4 separate regions of the Homo sapiens genome follow, and all the other regions are linked to region 3. Evidence: fine-mapped expression QTL. A gene starts in region 3. Each other region holds a variant in brackets. All regions are shown on one strand. Distances are between the middles of the regions. Region 1 overlaps ARPC1A (actin related protein 2/3 complex subunit 1A). Region 2 overlaps ARPC1B (actin related protein 2/3 complex subunit 1B). Region 3 holds the start of PDAP1 (PDGFA associated protein 1). Region 4 overlaps ARPC1A (actin related protein 2/3 complex subunit 1A).

Evidence for each region. PIP is the estimated chance that this variant, and not a neighbour inherited with it, causes the effect.
Region 1: its variant is fine-mapped to the expression of PDAP1 in whole blood (INTERVAL, PIP above 0.99).
Region 2: its variant is fine-mapped to the expression of PDAP1 in whole blood (TOPMed, PIP 0.91).
Region 4: its variant is fine-mapped to the expression of PDAP1 in whole blood (INTERVAL, PIP 0.96).

The regions. Positions count from the first base shown.
Region 1 is chr7:99,337,156-99,342,522 of GRCh38, forward strand. ARPC1A (actin related protein 2/3 complex subunit 1A) reads left to right here. Exons shown (of 10, transcript NM_006409.4): 3 at 1,026-1,130. Among named protein-coding and RNA genes, the nearest start is that of ARPC1A, 14 kb to the left of the region's middle. The variant TTTTG/T (reference allele first, on the strand shown) is at 2,993.
Region 2 is chr7:99,385,686-99,390,685 of GRCh38, forward strand. It overlaps ARPC1B (actin related protein 2/3 complex subunit 1B), which reads left to right. Exons shown (of 10, transcript NM_005720.4): 2 at 17-93; 3 at 1,000-1,104; 4 at 2,354-2,576; 5 at 4,220-4,327. The coding sequence starts at 30. Among named protein-coding and RNA genes, the nearest start is that of ARPC1B, 13 kb to the left of the region's middle. The variant A/G (reference allele first, on the strand shown) is at 2,088.
Region 3 is chr7:99,406,210-99,411,576 of GRCh38, forward strand. PDAP1 (PDGFA associated protein 1) reads right to left here and starts at 2,388. Exons shown (of 6, transcript NM_014891.7): 1 at 2,327-2,388. The coding sequence starts at 2,339. BUD31 (BUD31 spliceosome associated protein) reads left to right here and starts at 2,760. Exons shown (of 6, transcript NM_003910.4): 1 at 2,760-3,036; 2 at 3,825-3,960; 3 at 4,855-4,977. The coding sequence starts at 4,884. MIR12119 (microRNA 12119) reads left to right here and starts at 2,963; the gene lies at 2,963-3,055. RefSeq lists a silencer at 2,157-2,216 and an enhancer at 2,427-2,816.
Region 4 is chr7:99,355,490-99,360,856 of GRCh38, forward strand. ARPC1A (actin related protein 2/3 complex subunit 1A) reads left to right here. Exons shown (of 10, transcript NM_006409.4): 7 at 2,851-2,926; 8 at 4,056-4,249. Among named protein-coding and RNA genes, the nearest start is that of ARPC1B, 17 kb to the right of the region's middle. RefSeq lists enhancers at 2,493-2,993, 4,187-4,687. The variant CTT/C (reference allele first, on the strand shown) is at 3,047.

The DNA of each region.
Region 1 (5,367 bases), 69 kb before region 3:
TCATGCTGGTAATCCCAGCACCTTGGGAGGCCAAGGCAGGCAGATTACCTGAGGTCGGGAGTTTGAAACCAGCCTGACCAACATGGAGAAACCCTGTCTCTACTAAAAATACAAAATTAGCTGGGCGTGGTGGCGCATGCCTGTAATCCCAGCTACTTCGGAGGCTAAGGCAGGAGAATCGCTTGAACCTGGGAGGCGGAGGTTGCAGTAAGCCAAGATCGCGCCATTGCACTCCAGCCTGGGCAACGAGAGCAAAACACTATCTCAAAAAAGAAAAAAATGAAAATCTGAAATCCAAAATGTTCCAGAGAGCATTGCGTTTGAGCATGACCTTTTGAGTGTCATGTTGATACTCAAAAAGTTTTGGATTTGGGAGCATGTCAGATTTCAGCTTTTCAGATTAGGGATGCTCAACCTGTATGAGTTTTTAAAAAGTCCGTTTTGTGTATTATATTTTGGATTAGTTCAGGAAATTACTCTTGAAAACAAAGTATTGTGATTTATATTGGCTTTATTGTAAAGGAGAATTTCAGTATAGTTTATCAGCAGAATCAATTTTTTTAATATAAACTAGTGGTTCCAGCCTGGGTCCATGATAGCAGTAATGGAAGTCCATAACCTATTTTCAGTGTTTCAAAAAGACAAACAGAAATTTAGATTTAGCTCTAATAATATTGCACAGGTGAATGAAACTGTCAAACATTTTTACCCTGATCTAAAGTTATTTTAGCTAAGTACACTAACATTGTTTATTTTTCGCTGGTTAGAATCATTAATTGACAGTTGTACGTGTCTCTGGGAAAATGAATTTTAATCTTAGTTTTCCTGTAAAGCATTATAAAATACAGGGTCCAAGTAAAGGTTAAAAAAAAAATGGAATTATTCAGAGGTGAATTTGGGAACTACTTTTTCAAAAGTTTTTCTTTTCCTTACTATAGTCTGCTTTTAAAACAACTGTGACATGTCCCCTTTTTGGTGACAATTGCAAGTTCAGGTGTTAACTGTTGTTTGACTTGTGTCTCCAGAGATTGCCCTCAGTCCCAATAATCACGAAGTGCACATCTATAAGAAGAACGGGAGCCAGTGGGTGAAAGCTCATGAACTCAAGGAGCACAACGGACACATCACAGGTAAAGGAAGATAGCCGTGAGCTTAGTGTGATATTTCCAAATCAGGCACTCTTCCTTTTAGATAAAGAGCCTAATAAACCCAGGTGGCCATAATTTTTTTTTTTTTTTTTTTTTTTTTGAGAAGGAGTATCACTCTTTCGCCCAGGCTGGACTGCAATGGCGCAATCTCGGCTCACTGCAACCTCCACCTCCCGGGTTCAAGTAATTTTCCTGCCTCAGCTTCCTGAGTAGCTGGGATTACAGGCACGCGCCACTATGCCTGGCTAATTTTTTTTATTTTTAGTAGAGATAGGTTTCACCATGTTGGTCAAGCTGGTCTCGAACCCCTGACCTCGTGATCCTCCTGCCTCGGCCTCCCAATGTGCTGGGATTACAGGAGTGAGCTACCGCACCTGGCCCGTAATATTTAAAGTCATGCAGCACTTACTGAATTTCCTTAAAATTTTAAAGAAAATACTATAATGATCTTAGTTGTTAAGTGCTTCTTGTGGCCCCAGCTGGTACCCAGCACTCTACCGTTGCTATGGAAAGCACTGAACCTACCCTGAGGACTAAAGAGCTAAAATTAGGAGATGAGACGTGAAATTGAAAGCTAGATAACATGAAAATGTAGACAACACGAAAACGTGCGCCAAACTATTTCCAAGTGTCTTCCAAAAGTTTCCTTTGTGTTTTTAGGGTAAGGAAGACTTTCCAGAATATTGAGAAGAACAAAGTAATATAATAAACACCCATATCAGATAATCGCCACCAGAATTACCAACTTTTTCCCTGTGCCAGGAAGTAATTTCTTTTCCTGTATCAGGAAACTTAAGGAAAAAGGATGTAATAATAAGGAATATTATTCTTGATGATGGTAAAGTCACCTCTCACCAGCAGTCCTATTCCTCTCCCCTGGAAGGCAGACTATAATTTGCTATGACACCATTCCAGTCCATTTTTAATACATTTACATACATACATATTCATAAACAAGCTTAGGCCAAGCACAGTGGCTTACACCTGTAATCCCAGCACTTTGGGAGGCTGAGGCGGGAGGATCGCTTGAACCCAGGAATCCAAGACTAGCCTGGGCAACATAATGAGACCCCCCGTTAGCACGGTGTGGTGGCATGCACCTGTGGTCCCAGCTACTTGTGAGGCTGAAGTGGGAGGACCACTTGAGACAAGATCAAGGCTGCAGTGAGCTGTGATCACACCACTGCACTCCAGCCTGGGTGACACAGCAAGACCCTCATCTCAAAAAAAAGAAAAAAGAGAAAACAATCTTTAGGACTATTGACTAGTATTTTTTTGAAGCTACATAAATGGCATGATACTATGCATCTCCGGCAGCCTGCTTTTGCATTCATGATTGTTTCTGAGATCCATCTATGTTGCTGTCTAGATCAAGTTTATTCCTTTTAACCACTCTTTAGCATTTTATACCTCATTTATTTACTCCTTCCTCCACTGAAGAACATTTAGGTTGTTTCAATTTTTCCATATTACATGAAAGTGCTGAATAGGCATCCCTTGATTTCTGTACGTATGTGTGAATGTTTGTAGATGGTAGATGTGTTAATACCACAGGGTATGCATATCTGCAGTGCAGTGTTGCCAGGCCTCATCAGATTGCCATCATTCCCACCTGTCCTGTATGAGAGTGCTCATTTTCCCACACCCCGCCACATACTTGAGATGGGAAGACTGAAGAATGCATGAAAGGTTCATCCATTGCTTCTGTAAGTTGTATTTTCCTGATTCATGGAAAAGTTGAGATACTTTCAGACGTGTATTAGCCATGAGAGTTTTTCTTCCTTGTGACTGTCCTGTTCATAAATCCTGATCATTTTTTCATTGAGTTTTTGTCTTTTTTCTGT[TTTTG/T]TTTGTTTGTTTGTTTGTTTGTTTGTTTTGAGATGGAGTGTCATTCTGTCGTCTAGGCTGAAATGGAGTGGTACAGTCTTGGCTGACTGCAGCCTCTGCCTTCCAGGTTCAAGCAATTCTCCCGCCTCAGCCTCCCGAGTTGCTGGGATTACAGGTGCCTGCCACAATGCCCAGCTAATTTTTGTATTTTTAGTAGATGTGGGATTTCACCACATTGGACAGGCTGGTCTCAAGCTCCTGACATCAAGTGATCTGCCTGCCTTGGCCTCCCAAAGTGTTGAGATTACAGGTGTGACCCTTTTTTTTCTTTTAGACAGGGTCTTGGCTCTGTTGCCCAGTCACCCAGGCTAGAAGGATCATGGCTCACTACAGCCTCAACCTCTTGGGCTCAAGTGATCCTCCCATCTCAGCCTCCCCAGGAGCTGGTACTAAAGGTGTGCGCCAGCACACCCGGCTAATTTTTTTGTAAAGATAGATTTCACCATGTCGCCCAGGCTGATTTTTTATTCTTTTAGTTGGACTCTGCAATTTTACCTCTAATCACCTAAAATACTGATAAGCTTAGAGATATCCTTACCCAAATGAGAGAACTTAGCATGTTTTGCTATTCTACATCCTTTACAGAAGTTGTCCTGCATTCTTCAGCAATAACTCATGGCCACCCTTGCTTTGACCAGTGATTTATAAATAATGCTCTTGAGCACCAGTAGCTGAGTATATTTCCAAAGCAGCACCAAAGACAGCGTTTCTATTTTTGTTGCTGTTCCTTTCCCACAATCTTATTTCTATTAGGTTTGGCCTATTTTCTTAAGTTCCTTTGCCAGTGGCCTCATAGCCTAAGAATAAGAATACTCATATTTTAAATTGGAATTTTAGGCCGGGTGCGGTGGCTCACACCTGTAATCCCAACACTTTAGGAGGCTGAGGCGGGTGGATCACCTGAGGTCGGGAGTTTGAGACCAACCTGGCCAACATGGTGAAACCCTGTCTCTACTAAAAATACAAAAATTAGCCGGGTGTGGTGGCAAGCACCTGTAATCCCAGCTACTCAGGAGGCTGAGACATGAGAATCGCTTGAACCCAGGAGGCAGAGGTTGCGGTGAGCTGAGATGGCGCCACTGCACTCCAGCCTGGGGTATACAGCAAGACTCTGTCTCCAAAAAATAAAAAATTAGGCTGGGTGCAGTGGCTCAAGCCTGTAATCCCAGCCCTTTGGGAGGCTGAGGCGGGCTGATCACCTGAGGTCGGGAGTTCGAGACCAGCGTGACCAACATGGAGAAACCCCATTTCTACTAAAAATACACAAAATTAGCTGGGCGTGGTGGCACATGCCTGTAATCCCAGCTACTCAGGAGGCTGAGGCAGGAGAATTGCTTGAACCTGGGAGGCGGAGGTTACGGTGAGCCGAGATTGTGCCATTGCACGCCAGCCTGGACAATAAGAGCAAAACTCTGTCTCAAAAAAAAAAAAAAAAAAAATTAATTGGAATTTTAGAATTTAAAAGGAAATACTTTTAAATGAGAAAAGGCAAAGATGAAAGACCAAAGAAATCGCCAAAAATGTGAAATATTTAGTTATGTGTTTTTTTCCCTCTACTTCTCTTTTGGGGTCCTTTGAACTTGGGCCTGTTTTCTGTCTAGCTGCTCACATGGCATTTTTTAGATCTGAAATAACTTGTTGGAAAAATCTAAATATAACTCTGGGGCAGGAGATCAAGGATCAGACATATTTTCTCAGAAAGATAGTAATTTTAGGGGAAAAAAATATTTTCTGAAGCATTCTAGAAGAAAAAACTAGTCCATACTACAAAGAAAAGAAGTGTGGCAAACATCAGGGATATCAGAGTTCTGAGGTTTTATTCTTTTGTATTAAATATTTTTAAGAAACATGTTTTGTTACCATGGAAAATTTTAAACAGATTTTTAAAAAAGTGGAATAGTATAATGAGCCTTTTATACCCATCACCTGCATTCCACGATTATCGAGTAACAGCCAATCTTGTTCTTCTCAATTCACTTTCTCCTTTCCTGTACTAATTTGAAGCACATCCCAGACATTATATTGTTTCATATTTCAGTTTGCATCTCTAAAAGATAATGATTTTTCTTTTTAATAATAATAAATATTGATCAGGCTTACACCTGTAATCCCAGTGCTTTGGGAGGCTGAGGCAGGCAGATCACTTGAGCCCTGGAGTTCAAGACCAGCCTGGGCAACATGGTGAAACCCCATCTCTACAAAAAATTAGCCAGGCATGGTGGCTTGCACCTGTAGTCTCAGCTACTCAGGAGGCTGAGGTAGGAGGATTTCATGAGCCTGGGAGGTTGAGGCTGCAGTGAGCTATGATCACGCCACTGCACTCCAGTCTAGG
Region 2 (5,000 bases), 21 kb before region 3:
CCTCTCTCGGGCACAGGAGCCAAGCCGCCATGGCCTACCACAGCTTCCTGGTGGAGCCCATCAGCTGCCACGCCTGGAACAAGGACCGCACCCGTGAGTGCTTGCTGGGGGCCGGTGGGTGGCTGCTTCCACCTCCTGGGATGGGGACCAGCCAGAGCACACATGGGGACTCTGGAGCAGCCAGGCCCCCGGACCATGGGCTCCATGTGGCTGTCCCCTGGCCTCACCCCTGGGTCTTCCAGCTGACCAGGGGCCTCCTGGGTTAAAGTTTAAGGAGGGAATGGGCCAGTTGCGGTAGCTCATGCCTGTAATCCCGGCACTTTGGGAGGCTGAGGTGGGTGGATCACTTGAGGTCAGGAGTTCCAGACCAGCTTGGGCAACATGGTGAAACCCTGTCTCTACTAAAAATACAAAAATTACCTGGGCGTGGTGGTGGGTGTCTGTAATCCCAGCTACTCGGGGGGCTGAGGCACGAGAATTGCTTGAACCCAGGAGGCGGAGGTTGCAGTGAGTCGAGATTGCACCACTGCACTCCAGCCTGGGCAACAAAGCGAGACTCTGTCTCAAAAAAAAAAAAAGAGAGAAAGAAAGAAAGAAAAAGTGACCAAGAAAAAGCCTTTCGGAGGAGATGACATTTTGACATTTACCCAGAGACCCAGAGGGGGAGAGGAAGGGAACTGTGCCCCAGCTGGGGAGGGGCTGGCAGGTGCAGGGGCCCTGAGGTGTCAGCAGGAGCAGCGAAGGGTTCCTGGTTGGCCAGAGCAATAGGGTGGGGAGAGGTCCCAGGGTTCATTGCTGCGAGTAAAGGACAGCCAGTTCCAGGAGAAGACAGGGTGGCCTAGCAGGGCCTGAAGGACTTCAGGGGGCCCCTGCAAGGCAGAAGAGGAGAGACTGAGTCATGAAAGGTGAGGTGTTGTTGCCTAGGTGCACTGTGTAGTGTGTCCTGGCAGAGGGCAGTCATGGAGAGGGCCCCTCAATCTCCCTCCATCTCCCCTTCAGAGATTGCCATCTGCCCCAACAACCATGAGGTGCATATCTATGAAAAGAGCGGTGCCAAATGGACCAAGGTGCACGAGCTCAAGGAGCACAACGGGCAGGTGACAGGTATGTCAGGGTGGCTGGGACCACCGTCCTGAAAGGAGGTGGTGGGTTGGGGGGGTGGTGCAAGGCAGGGCATGGCCACTCATTGTGGAGCATCTGCCCACTCACCGTGAAACCCGGATTCAAACTGGCTTCAATTTTAAGGGGACTGTGTTGGCTCATGTTACCAAAAACTCACAGGGTTGAGGGCTTCAGGAGAGGCTTGATCCAGCAGCTCCACATGACCAAGAACCCATCTTTTCTGCCTCTTGGCTTTGCCCTCCAGCATGTTTGCTGATAGCATGGAGGGCTCTGACACTCCCTCATAAGCTCTAGGAGTGCCCCCTGGTGTCACTCTAAATAAGCACTGGATCTCAGTAAAAAGTGCTTGCTGGGCCGGGTGCAGTGGCTCATGCCTGTAATCCCAGCACTTCAGGAGGCCAAGGCGAGTGGATCGCTTGAGGTCAGGAGTTCGAGACCATCCTGGCCAACATGACTAAATGTTGAAAAATACAGAAATTAGCCGGGTGTGGTGGCACGCACCTGTAGTCCCAGATACTCTGGAGGCTGAGGCAGAAGAATCGCTTGAACCCAGGAGGCGGAGGTTGAAGTGAGCTGAGATTGCACCACTGCACTCCAGCCTGGATGGCAGAGCGAGACTGTGTCGCAATAAAAACAAAGAAAGAAAGAGGCCGGGTGCGGTGGCTTGCGCCTGTACTCCCAGCACTTTGGGAGGCGGAGGCGGGCGGATCACCTGAGGTCAGGAGTTCAAGACCAGCCTGGTCAACATGGTGAAACCTCATCTCTACTAAAATACAAAAATTAGCCAGGCATGATGGCGGGTGCCTGTAATCCCAGCTACTTGGGAGGCTGATATGTGAGAATTGCTTGAACCCGGAAGATGGTGGTTCCAGTGAGCTGAGATCGTGCCAGTGCACTCCAGCTTGGGCGGCTGAGCGAGACTCTGTCTCAAAAAAAAAAAAAAAAAAAAAAGATTGGTGGTACAC[A/G]CCTGTAGTCCCGGCTACTCAGGAGGCTGAGGCACGAGGATTGCTTGAACCTGGGAGGCAGAGGCTGCAGTGAGCTGAGATCATGCCACTGCACTCCAGCCTGGGTGACAGAGCGAGACTCTGTTTCAAAAAAAAAAAAAAGTGCCTGCTGGGCAGATACAGCTTCCACCTGGATGGTGGCCTTTCAGCCTCTCCCATGTGGCCACCATACAGCCACCTCTGCCTGAGTGTCATCAGCCTCCTGTGTTCCCTCCATCCCCCCACAGGCATCGACTGGGCCCCCGAGAGTAACCGTATTGTGACCTGCGGCACAGACCGCAACGCCTACGTGTGGACGCTGAAGGGCCGCACATGGAAGCCCACGCTGGTCATCCTGCGGATCAACCGGGCTGCCCGCTGCGTGCGCTGGGCCCCCAACGAGAACAAGTTTGCTGTGGGCAGCGGCTCTCGTGTGATCTCCATCTGTTATTTCGAGCAGGAGAATGACTGGTGGGTACCTAGGCAGGGCCAGAGTGGGCTGTTAGGGACCGGGGGCAGGACTAGAGTGTCCCCGGGAAGCACCAAATGGGATGTCAGGACCCCTGTTCCCATCACCCTGGGGGAGTCCATCCTCTCCTCTCTGGGCCTCATTCATGAGGCAAGGGCCTCTCTGCAGCGTCCGGATGTTCTCACTGCCAGTGACACCCACCACACCAGAAACACATCTGGGGGCACCTCACTAAGCCCTGCACACACATTAGTCCTGACTTCCCTGCAGCTCCGTGGACTGGGCATCGGTCACTGTCCCCACTTTACAGATTAGCAAAGGCCCTGTAGCAGTCACTTTCTCAAGGCACCACTCACGAGCTCGCAGCCACATCTTGTTCCTTTTTTTTTTTTCAGATGGAGTCTCACTCTGTCACCCAGGCTGGAGTGCAGTGGCACGATCTTGGCTCACGGCAGCCTCTGCCTGCCGGGTTCGAGCAGTTCTCTGCCTCAGCCTCCCAAGTAGCTGGGATTACAGGCACCTGCTACCATGCCCGGATAATTTTTATATTTTTAGTAGAGATGGGGTTTCACCATCTTGGCCAGGTTGGTCTAGAACTTCTGACCTCATGATCCACCCGCCTCGGCCTCCCAAAGTGTTGGGATTACAGGCGTGAGCCACCGTGCCCAGCCAATTTTTTTTTTTTTTTTTTTTTTGAGACACAGTCTTGCTCTGTCGTCCAGGCTGGAGTGCAGTGGCACAATCTCAGCTCACCGCAACCTCTGCCTCCCAGGTTCAAGCAATTCTCCTGCCTCAGCCTACTGAGTAGCTGGGACTACAGGCACGCACCACCACGCCAGGCTAATTTTGTATTTTTTAGTAGAGATGGGGTTTCTCCATGTTGGTCAGGCTGGTCTTGAACTCCTGACCTCAGGTGGTCCTCCTGCCTCCGCCTCCCAAAGTGCTGGGATTACAGGCGTGAACCACTGCGCCCGGCCATATATATATTTTTGAGACAAGGTCTTGCTCTGTCGCTCAGGCTGGAGTGCAGTGTTGTGATCATAGCTCACTGCAGCCTCAGCCTCCTGAGCTCAAGTAATCCTACCACTTCAGCCTCCTGAGTAGCTCGGACTACAGGCCCAAATCATTTATTTATTTATTTTGTAGAGATAGGGTCTTGTCACGTTGTCCAGGCTGGTCTTGAACTCCTGGCCTCAAGCAATCTTCCCACCTCAGCCTCCCAAAGTGCTGAGACTACAGGTGTGAGCCATGATTGCCAGTCCACGTCTTAGTTTTTAATCTCCCCTGCATGGCTGAGGGCAGAGGCCAGCCAGGAGCATCTGAGAGACCCAAATTTGCATCCCACCATGGCCAGTTAGTAGTTGTGTGACCTCTGGTGATGGCATCACTTTGCTGAGCCTGCTCTGAGGGTGACTGTGTGGCCTAAAGGATAGAGGGCACAGAGTTCCCACTCCAGAAGCGACACAGCACATCCCTGCCGCCCCAGGGCCCTGACGGCCTTGTGGGCTGGCAATGCCCAGTCGCCTCTCTCCTGGGTCTTTGGTGGGCTGCAGGGAGCAGTGGGAGCCTGGAGTCCCTGGTGCTGAGGTCCATGAGTCCCACCTGCCTGTCCCTCTCTCCCTGTCTGCCTGACCACCGTTCCCAGGTGGGTTTGCAAGCACATCAAGAAGCCCATCCGCTCCACCGTCCTCAGCCTGGACTGGCACCCCAACAATGTGCTGCTGGCTGCCGGCTCCTGTGACTTCAAGTGTCGGTGAGACAGGGCGCCATGGGGGAGGGCGGGGCTGACGTCAACTGACTGCTGACATCATAGCGGGGAGCCGCACCTGAAAGCTCTACACCCCAGCTTCTAGACACATTCCAGACCTGCTACCAGTGGATGACCTGGGCGTCGGTTGAAGGTTCTAGTTCCTGGGGAACCCTTCATGTCTCAGCTGGATGGGCCTCTGCCCACCTCTTTTATTTTTTTTGAGCTAGGGGCTTGCTCTGTTGCCCGGGCTGGAATGCAGTAGTGCAATCATAGCTCACTGCAGCCTCCAAATCCTGGACTCAAGCGATCCTCTTGCTTCTCAGCCTCCCAAGCAAGACTACCACGCCCAGCTAGACAGGATTTTTTTTTTTTTTTTGGAGACGGACTCTCGCTCTTTCGCCCAGGCTGGAGTGCAGTGGCGTGATATTGACTCACTGCAACCTCCGCCTGCTGAGTTCAAGCGATCAAGCGATTCTCCTGCCTTAGCCTCCTGAGTAGCTGGAACTACAGGCGCATGCCACCATGCCCGGCTAATTTTTGTATTTTTAAATGTAGAGACGGGTTTTCACCATGTTGGCCAGACTGGTCTCGAACCCCTGACTTCAAGTGATGCATCTGCCTCAGCCTCCCAAAGTGCTGGGATTACAAGCTTCAGCCACCATGCCCAGGCACCTGT
Region 3 (5,367 bases):
TGCACTCCAGCCTGGGCCACAGAGCGAGACTCCGTCTCAAAAAAATAAAAAAATCGCTGTTCGTTACTTTTCCCTCTAATCTAGTATTTGGTGGAAAAACAACAACAAAAGCACCACTGAGCACATAAGCAATTTACTGCAGATGTTGGAAACACAATAAAATACCTTGTGTTCACCTTAGTAGTATGGCAAAAAGAGAATACTTAAGGGAAAAAAAAGAAACCCAAACCTACAGGCAAAAACTTTGTGCTTAGACTAAGAAATGACTGGCAAAGTACAGATGAAAACAAACCTGACTACACAGTCTAAAAGTTAAAAATGTGACTAGCAGTTAAAGTGTCAGTTTTATAGTCTGACCCTCTTCAGCCAGAACACCAGGCTGACCCTTGCTTAAGCCATCAGCCAGTTTTAAAGCAAGGTGGCATCCCCCTCTGCTGGTCCCCAAGTATGCAAGGGTGGCTGTGGCCTCAACTTCCACACAGGAAGCTGAGGCCCACCTGATTTCCATAGTCTGTCTCTGTGAGCAGAGACTCTGTAATCAGCCAGAGTTGCTCTGCACTCCAGAGGCGGTAGCAGAGATACTGGCCTCCTCTGATTCCTTACAGCAGCTGCAAAGCCATAATTGGGCTGCTAAAGATCACACCACCCATTTTTAATGACTACCTAGGTTCCCAGGGGTGTCTAAGTCTATGCTTATTAAAGTCCTATTGTGAGAGAGCAAGTGTGCCAAGAAAAAAACCAACACCCTTTCTTGCTCTCTTAATACACCAGGCAACAGTAACAACTCAAAATTGATTACTATAGGCTCTCCTCTCATGCACTTGGCTATGGGACCCTGACCTTAGCTTGGTCCACAGTAATTTTATAGTAGACTCTTCAAGACTTTAAAAAACGATTTGCACTTAACATAATGGAAACAAGCGTTGGTCCTTTGCTCTTAGGGAGTTTGATACTTTTAACACCTTCACGGTTTTTTGTGGTTTTCAGATTAACCCAAGAAAATGTAAACCTTGTCTACCCCAAAAAGCTTTTCACAAGCCCAAAGACCATTTAGCTATGAATTCATATTTAAGGTTTTATCGTTGTAACCTCCAACCTTTACCCAAAGTATCCATTAAGTAAAACTTCGGAGGGAGGATGGCTCATTCAGCAACCTCCTTTTACAGATGAAGGGACTGGGGAACAATAGCAGAGAGACTTTTCCAGCCACAGAATAAATCAGTAGAGAGCTAGGTTTAAACACATTTAGCTCTGTAATGCCCAATTATCTCTGGAGTCAGGAAGCGATTTAGGTTTGAAAACGCTACAGGCAGATGTTTCTGTGGGTTGAGTGCATTAACCAATATAACACATGAGCTACCAACACAAATATATTTGTTCTGTGCCAGGAGGTGGCCAGGCACTTTATGAGCGCTATAATTTTACCACCCCGGCCCCAATTCAACAAGCTAAGGATTAGCCCAGTGTTTCAGATGAGGAAGAGGTTAACTTGTTCAGGGCCACAGAATTAGACGTGACATAGCTGGGATTCAAACTGGGGACTATCGATTCTAAAGGGGGAAACAGGATAGAGAACGGGCTAGAAGATAGAGGACGGGCTACAATGGACTGGGCAGTCATGAACCTACTTACAAGATCAAGAGCTGGCAAAGCCTTAAAAATAAGAATAGTTACTGCTTCACTGGGCACTTTTAACGACTGCCTGGCACTGTACTGCGCACTCCACGTGGATTACCTAGTTGAAGCCTCCCAACAGTACTAAGAGGTAGGTACAATCGTTATTCCCATTGGCAAATGAGAAAACGGAGACACAGGAGGTGGAGCGACTGGCTCAAAGGAACACACCGAGCCGCTACCGAACGGGGGAGTCGAAACCAGGTCTGGAAGGCTCATGGGCATCTCCTTAAGTCCTCCTAGGCAGGCCTGGCTGAACCGAAGCCAGAAAAAGCCCACGTTTTACGCGAGAGGCAGGCGGGCCCGGCACAAGCGCGGGACGCGGTGACTCAGTTCCTAGCCAGCCAAAGAGTGGGATAAATTCCAGAACCCCTAGACCCGGAGAAGCGCATCCTAGATCCGGCTTTCTAGGCCGGCGAGGACCCAGAGCTTCCGAAACTCCTCAGACCACTGACGGAGTGACTCTGGGACACCACAGTCCTCAGTTTCCCCATCGGGACAATTGGGCGTCGAGGCCCAGGCCTGGCTCTCAGCCGGTGCGGACAGCCTCCCTCTGCGCTGCTCTCAGAGACGCGCACGGGCTGAGGGGACAGCGGAAGCCGGACCTGGGCCGCCCCTCCAGGCCTGCGGGCCACCGGCGCCCGCCCCTCACCTCCTTTAGGCATTGCGGCTCCGGCGGCTGCGGCGGCGGCGGCGGCGCCTCGAACTGACACCGGAACCGGAAATAGCTTGGGCTCGACTTCTTCCTCCTGGGCCAGCCGCCGCCGCCGCTTCAGTGGCCGCAGTGGCCGCAAGGACCCGGACCTCAGGGAGGCCTCCGCACGAAGTCGGACCGTCCTGCGCGCCGCCTAAGTCCAGGCTTGCCCGTCTGCTGCCAGGCAACAACGCCCCTAGTCTCTCCGTTCGGGAAGACGCGTGGCCCTGCCTGCCACCCACCGGAAGTGAGGGCAAATGGCAACAGCGGCTCTGGAATTCTATACAGGCATTGCTGAGGACACCTAAGATGACGCAATCTCCGCGCGGGTAGGGCGGGGCTCCGCAAGGACCTCATGCCTTAGAGATCGCCTGAAGAGCGGAAGCCTTCTGTCGAGAAGCAGCTACCCAAGCTCCAGGAGCTTCCGGTATGTGTTTTCCCTCTGTTCTCGATTACCTTGGCAACGGCTGAGGCGGGAGACCGGTGGTCTGCACCGTCCTGGAGGGAGATATGAGTGGCTGGACTCTCAGCCAGCCACTGGGATGTGTTCGGGCTTTGGACCTTGAGGCCGGAGAGAGCTCCCGAGAGGAGGCGGCGCCACGTTCGTTCTTCTGAGGGGACGGTAGATTTGGGGGTTTTCCTCTAGGATTCTCGCGCCGTTTCCTCTGGTAGGAACGTCTTCTGTGTTCTGATTGTTTTTCTAAGCTGGGTTCAGATGCTGTCCTTTTTATGAGTTTTCCCTACAATCCTGCACTATCTTCCTTCGCTCCTCCTCGCCTCCTTCCCCTAGCGCCCCAATCTCTCTTACACCTCCCGGCACATCTTTCTTCTCGATCTGATTACCTCCTACGTCCTCTTTCTCCTCGATCTGGTTACCGCCTACCATTTTCACCTCCGAGAGGCCTCTTCTGACTTCCAGGCTGGATCAGGGCCCTCGAATTTCCCTGGGTCGTAGAAAAGCGATCATTCTCTTGTCACAGACTATGCGCCTTGGGGCCGAGACCAGAATTCACCTATTTTTAGCTTCAGCGTAGGGGAGACTAGTGCGAAGACCACTGATTTGGGAGTCAGGAGCCCTCCAGAGTCAGGTTTTGCAAATTCTCAGCTGTGTGACCCTGATTCTACCTTATAGAGTTTGATTCCTCCTCTATATGGTTGTTTTAGAGAGTTCATGAGAGGAGGCTCTGTGGGCGGGGGGGGGGTGGGTCTTTGTAAAGTGTCAGTACAGAAGGGAGTGACTGAATGAATTTGAGAGAGATGAATCTGTTATGCTGAAAGGTAAATACTTAACCTGGGTTCTCTCTGGCAGCAAGGAAATGCTGTGTGGTTTGAAAAACGCTTTGCTATTTAGATTGGGATCGGCCTCTTGTATGGGAACTACCTGACTTTATGTAATATGTTGTTTGGTGTGAAAGAGACCTTGGCAATCAGCCAATCCACTGCCCTCATTTTACAGAAGAAACAGGACCAGAGAGGGAAGGTGACCTGAAAGTCACAGAATAATTTTTTAGAGCTGAACAAGAATCCAAGCCTGCAACTGCAGAGACGAGAGATCTTTCTGCTGTCTATACTCTTGGAAAGCACATCCTAAGGTACTTTGATTTTACAGTCATCTTTCCCTTTTTATTTTATGTTTTGTTTTGTTTTGTTTGTTATTGAGACATGGTCTCACTCCGTCACTTAGGCTGGAGTGCAGTAGTGTGAACATGGCTAACTGAAGACTTTCAACCTCCTGGGCTCAAGTGATCCTCTTGCCTCAGCCTTCCGTGTAGCTCAGACCACAGGCACCCACCACCATGCTCAGTTAATTTTTTTGATTTTTTTTTTTTTTTGGTAGAGATAGGGTTTCACCTCATTGCTCAGACTGGTCTCAAATTCCTGGGCTCAAGTGATCCTCCCATCTCAGCCTCCCAAGGTGCTGGCCAAGACCAGAATTACAGGCATGAGCCACCGTGCCTGACCTTCCATCTTTGCCTTTTTAAATACTCACCCCCATGGCTCCCCGAGTCACAGCCCTCCTTATACTCTATTGTAATTGCTTTTTCTCTTGTCTGTCTCTTTGCTAAAATGTCACCTTCTAAGGGGCAAAGGCTTAACTTTTGTTCTGTGTTCCCAACATCCAGTATAGGGTTAAGCTTTTAGTTGAAGTTAGCTAATGACAACAGCAAATGTCTCTTAGGCACACATTATACACCAGGCATGATAGATACAATTCTAATGAAGTCTTTGCAATGACCACATAAGGTAGCTTCCATTATCCCCATTTTACAGATGAGGAAACAGAGGCTTAGGAAGGTTAAGTACCTTTCTGAAGATCACAGCGGGTAAGTAGCAGAGCCAGGATTTGAACACAGTCTGGGTGCTGAGCCCTGTCCCATAGCTGTGACCCTATGCTGACTCAAGGAAGTCAGCCTGTACCGAAATAATGGCTGGCAAAGGCCTTTGGGGATTTGAGACTCAGAAACCAATTCATTTTTTTCCCCCAGATCTTTGCAGATTATCCTGTGGAAGGAAAATGCCTAAAGTCAAAAGAAGCCGGAAAGCACCCCCAGATGGCTGGGAGTTGATTGAGCCAACACTGGATGAATTAGATCAAAAGATGAGAGAAGGTGAGTAGGGGAGTTCCTGTCTGGGTGGGCTGGGTCCAAGGGTCACAGGCTTAGATGCCCCCAGGGGACAGGCATAAATGCAAATATAAAAAGAGAGTGGTCTACTAACACTGACATGTTGTGTTTGCTTATGAACTTGGGGAAATACTGTAAGTGCCCGAAAATAAGATAACATTAATGAAAAGGTCCTCAGAAAAGGTGTTTTTTTTTGTTTTTGTTTTTGCCAACTCGAATATAAAAGGTTATGAAATATAGATCAAATAGTCTACCTATAGTTATTTACTATTTTGGTTAGATATATATTTAAAATCATACAAAATATATTTACTTGGAAGTGCTATTCCTTTTCAGTATCATCGATTAGTCTTTGCCGCATCTGTTTTCTGTCAC
Region 4 (5,367 bases), 51 kb before region 3:
ATCCCAGCACTTTGGGAGGCCAAGGTGGGTGGATCACTTGAGGTCAGGAGTTCGAGAGCAGCCTGGCCAACATGGTGAAACCCTGTCTCTACAAAAATACAAAAATTAGCCCAGCATGGTGGCGGGTGCCTATAGTCCCAGCTACTCGGGAGGCTGAGGAAGGAGAATCACTTGAACCCAGGAGGTGAAGGTTGCAGTGAACCGAGATCATGCCATTGCACTCCAGCCTGGGCAACAGAGCAAGACTCCATCTCAAAAAAAAAAAGGCTAGTTTAGTCTGTTACTCTGAATTCCTTACAAAATGTAAGTGCCGTTCACCGGCCTTAAATTAAATAGGAGATATATTCTTACTGGGGGAAGTCAGCGAACGATGACTTCATTAATTTGAGCCTTCCATTCAGTAAGGCTTAAAAAGCATTGATGCCACTTCTCTGCTGTGGCTGGAAGGACTCGAATTACGGTGGCTTCTTTGTGAGTGGCGTGTCTGTTCAGCCATAAAGTACTTGGCCAGACATCAGAGTTCATTTTGTTCAGTATATGTTGGAGGAAGAGAGAAGATTGGAATCCTTCTTCTTTTATAAATCTTTGTTCTTCCCTGGTGTTCCTTTTCCATTGATAGCTAAAGGGAACTCACCATTAAAGGTTTTGTGATGGACATGGCCACTTGGGTATCAAAAATCAATCACACTGGGTGACCTTTACTCCCTGTCAGGTCAGTAAGAGTCACCCAGTGTAAACAGCATGATATTTCAGACATGATATGTTTTTCCTAACAGGATTAAATGTGCATTTTTTAGCTAGTTTTACATATTTTTTTAAAGATTATCCCCTCAGGCCGGGTGCAGTGGCTCACGCCTGTAATCCCAGCACTTTGGGAGGCCGAGGCGGGTGGATCACCTCAGGTAAGGAGTTCGAGACCAGCATGGCCAACATGGAGAAACCCCGCCTCTACTAAAAGTATAAAAATTAGCCAGGTGTGGTGGCATGCACCTGTAATCCCAGCTACTCAGGAGGCTGAGGCAGGAGAATTGCTTGAACCCAGCAGGCAGAGGTTGCAATGAGCCAAGATCGCACCACTGCACTCCAGCCTGGGCAACAAGAGGAAGACTCTGTCTCAAAAAAAAAAAAAAGACTGGGCACAGTGGCTCACACCTGTAATCCCAGCACTTTGGGAGGCCGAGGCGGGCGGATCACAAGGTCAGGAGATCGAGACCATCCTGGCTAACACGGTGAAACCCTGTCTCTACAAAAAATACAAAAATTAGCCAGGCGTGGTGGCGGGCGCTTGTAGTCCCAGCTACTCGGGAGGCTGAGGCAGGAGAATGGCGTGAACCTGGGAGGCAAAGCTTGCAGTGAGCCGAGATTGCGCCACTGCACTCTAGGCTGGGCGACAGAGCGAGACTCCATCTCAAAAAAAAGAAAGAAAAAAAGAAAGATTGTCCCTTCCATTATAAAATGTAGTCTTTCAGAAGATTTCCCTACATAAACAGGCACTTATATATCTTTTCATTTTTAACAGAAATAAGATTATTTTATACATTTTTATATACATTTGGTAATTTGCCTTTTAATACTTGATAATACTTTTGTATTTTGATGCCAGTGTTACTTGATTTTTATATGGTTTATTGTGACACAGTAAGTTCTTAGCATACACTTATTACAAGTCCCTGTCTACCCTCGTACTGACTTCTTTCCCTTTTCCAGTCCTGCAAGTCAGATTACATGCTCCACCTTTCCACTCCTCCAACATAAATATCTCATGTAGTAAAAGTCAGGTATACCGCACTAAGGGCTTAAGATGACACATTAGTTCTTCAATTCAATGCCAACTTTATGAAGGGTGTCCTGAGACATATACAGTTAGCTTTTTTTTATTTTTTAATTTAGAGAGACACTCTCTGTCGCCCAGGCTGGAACTCCTGAGCTCAAGTTCTCCTCCCACCTCAGCCTCTCAAGCAGCTGGAGCCACAGACGTGCACCACCACTCTAGGCTAATTTTTTTTTTTTTTTAATTTTTCGTAGAGACTGGGTCTCACTATGTTGTCCAGGCTGATCTCAAACTCCTGCCTCCAGCAATCCTTCCACCTCAGCCCCTCAAAGTGCTGAGATTACAGGTGTGAGCCACCATGCCCAGCCACAGTCAGCTTTTGAATGCATCGTTTCTTGCATGAAGTGAGGTGCTCCTAACTCATCAGCCAGTGTGTCTGCCTGCCATATCTGTGTAATCTCTTTGCCACATTCAAGAGCAAATAACTACATGCACACACATGTCCCTGCAGGCACACATACACACACATGGCCCATTCGAGTGTGAGCTCCTGGCTAAGACCGTTTGGTTCATCTTGGTAGCTCTAGCTCCTAACACAGTGCCTGGCCGTCAGCACAGATCTGTGTGGTCACAGCCCTCTCGGAGCTCCGGTGAGCACAGGCAAGGAGAAGGTCCTAGCACAGGTGTCTGCTGCCAAGTCATAGTAACAGGAAGAGCTCTAGGAGCTAAGAGCAGGGAGAAGCCACTTTAGGCGGAAGTGGCCCGGGAAAGTGGACCGTGGGATCATGGGGGTGATCCCTTTAGAGCTGTGCTGGGGGTGGAAGGGCGTGATGCAAAGACTGGGCTTTGGGAACCAGTTTGTCGTCAGTGGGCAGGGCCTCAGAAGGAGGCAGAGCCGGAACCCAGGGCTGCCCCTGTCTTGAGAGGCCTGCAAGTTGAGGTCAGGGGCTCCTTTTCAACATAAGTGCCCATTGATACTGCAGAAGCCCCTGTGAGAATGGGTCCTTTGTGATCATCTGTGTCTGTAAAGAAGCTAATAGTCTGTTGCATCTTGGGATAACACATGTTCTTGTGTTCAGGGTCTCGACTCTGAAGACAGAGTTCCTGCCGCTCCTAAGTGTGTCATTTGTCTCAGAGAACAGCGTCGTGGCTGCTGTGAGTATTTTTCTTCATTCTCCCTCGGGGTGCACTGTATGTGATGCTCAGACAGGGAACAATGTGTGCTCTGTCACCCTAGCACAAAGCAGAACAGTTTTTTAGAAGAAACAGAGCTCA[CTT/C]TTTTTTTTTTTTTTTTTTTTGAGATGGAGTTTTGCTCTTGTTGCCCAGGCTGGAGTGCAATGGGTGATCTTGACTCACCGCAACCTCTGCCTCCCGGGTTCAAGCGATTCTCCCGCCTCAGCCTCTCGAGGAACTGGGAATATAGGCATGCGCCACCATACCTGGCTAATTTTGTATTTTTAGAAGAGACGGGGTTTCTCCATGTTGGTCAGGCCGGTCTCGAACTCCCATCCTCAGGTGATCCACCCACCTTGGCCTCCCAAAGTGCGGGCATGAGCCACCGTGCCCGGCCTCAGAGGTCACTTTTTTTTTGGAGACTGTCTTGCTCTGTCGCCCAGGCTGGAGGGCAGTGGCGCAATTTTGGCTCACTGCAAGCTCCGCCTCCCGGGTTCACGCCATTCTCCTGCCTCAGCGTCCTGAGTAGCTGGGACTACAGGCGCCCGCCACCTCGCCGGGCTAATTTTTTTTATTTTTAGTAGAGATGGGGTTTCACCATGTTAGCCAGGATGGTCTCAATCTCCTGACCTCGTGATCCGCCCACCTTGGCCTCCTAAAGTGCTGGGATTACAGGTGTGAGCCACCGTGCCCGGCCGCTCACTTTTAAGAGTAAGAGGGGGTGGGGCACGATGGCTCACGCCTGTAGTCCCAGCACTTTGGGAGGCCAAGGCGGGTGGTTCACTTGAGGTCAGGAGTTCAAGACCAGCCTGGCCAACATGGTGAAACCCCGTCTCTACTAAAAACACAAAAATTAGCCAGGCATGGTGGCAGACGCCTGTAATCCCAGCTACTTGGGAGGCTGAGGCAGGAGAATTACTTGAACCCGGGAAGCAGAGGTTGTGGTGACCTGAGATTGTGCCACTGCACTCTAGCCAGGGCAACAGAGCAAGACTCGGTCTCAAAAAAAAAAAAAAAAAAGAGTAAGAGAGGCCTGTCGTGGTGAACACTCTGCCAAGGAGGTGGGCGGTGGGCAGTGCATCCTCCAGGGACTGACTGAGTCTTGTTTCAGGGCCATGACTGCTGCCCAATGCTCTTTAACTACGATGACCGCGGCTGCCTGACCTTCGTCTCCAAGTTAGATATTCCAAAACAGAGCATCCAACGCAACATGTCTGCCATGGAACGCTTCCGCAACATGGACAAGAGAGCCACAACTGAGGACCGCAACACGGCCTTGGAGACGCTGCACCAGAATAGCATCACGTAGGTGCCGTCTGTAGAGAGGTGGTCAGGTGACAAGGTGCCTTCCTGCCCCTCGCTGTTTCCTTACTGGGTTCCTACAAAAGCTCTATGCCCCTCAGGCCCAGACATTCTTTCAGGGACAAGTGCAGCAAGAAGTCTGTATCTTCCCGACCGCCAGGCTCTCATTTCCAGCTCGTGGTAGGGAGGGAGTCGCCACCACCTGGTCATTCTGTCCTTCAAGGTGCAGATTACAAGGCAGCAGCCAGCAGGAGCAGTGCAGACCTTGTTGCAATCTGAGGTGGTGGGGCCTCAGGGCAGCTGCTTCCTAGGGTACCCTTTCTCAGCTACTCGAGAACAAAAGGAGACATTCCTGAATGCTGCGTTCCCACAGTAGTGCACACATAACAGAAAGCGAAGTTACAGCCTGTTGGAAAAGGTAACTGTAGCTGTCGTTTCAAGTAATGGATACAAATAAGAAGATTATTTAATTAAAGGAACAGAATTTCTTATCATCATGATGACAAAGCTGAGGAGTGTCTCGACTGGGTTTTCATCAGGTATATGTAATTATGTAAGACAACAGAATTGTGTTTTGTCCAGAAAGTTTAATTTTTTTTTTTTTTTTTGAGACAGAGTCTCACTCTGTTGCCCAGGCTGGAGTGCAATGCCACAATCTCGGCTCACTGCAACCTCTGCCTCCCGGGTTCAAGCAATTCTCCTGCCTCAGCTTCCCAAGAAGCTGGGATTACAGGCGTGTGCCACCACACCTGGCTAATTTTTTGTATTTTTAGTAGAGACGGAGTTTCACCCTGTTGGCCATCCTGGTTTCAAACTCCTGACCTCAGGTGATCCAACCACCTCAGCCTCCCAAATTGCTGGAATTACAGGCGTAAGCTACCGTGCCTGGCCTGAAAGTTTGATTTTTAAGGTCTAGAGGAGAGGCTGGGCATGATGGCTTACACCTTTAATCCCAGCACTTTGGGAGGCTGAGGCAGGCAGATCACTTGAGGTCAGGAGTTCGAGACCAGCCTTGCCAACATGGCAAAACCCCATCTCTACTAAAAAATACAAAAATTAGCTTGGCATGGTGGTACACACCTGTAATCCCAGCTACTCGGCAGGCTGAGGCAGGAGAATTG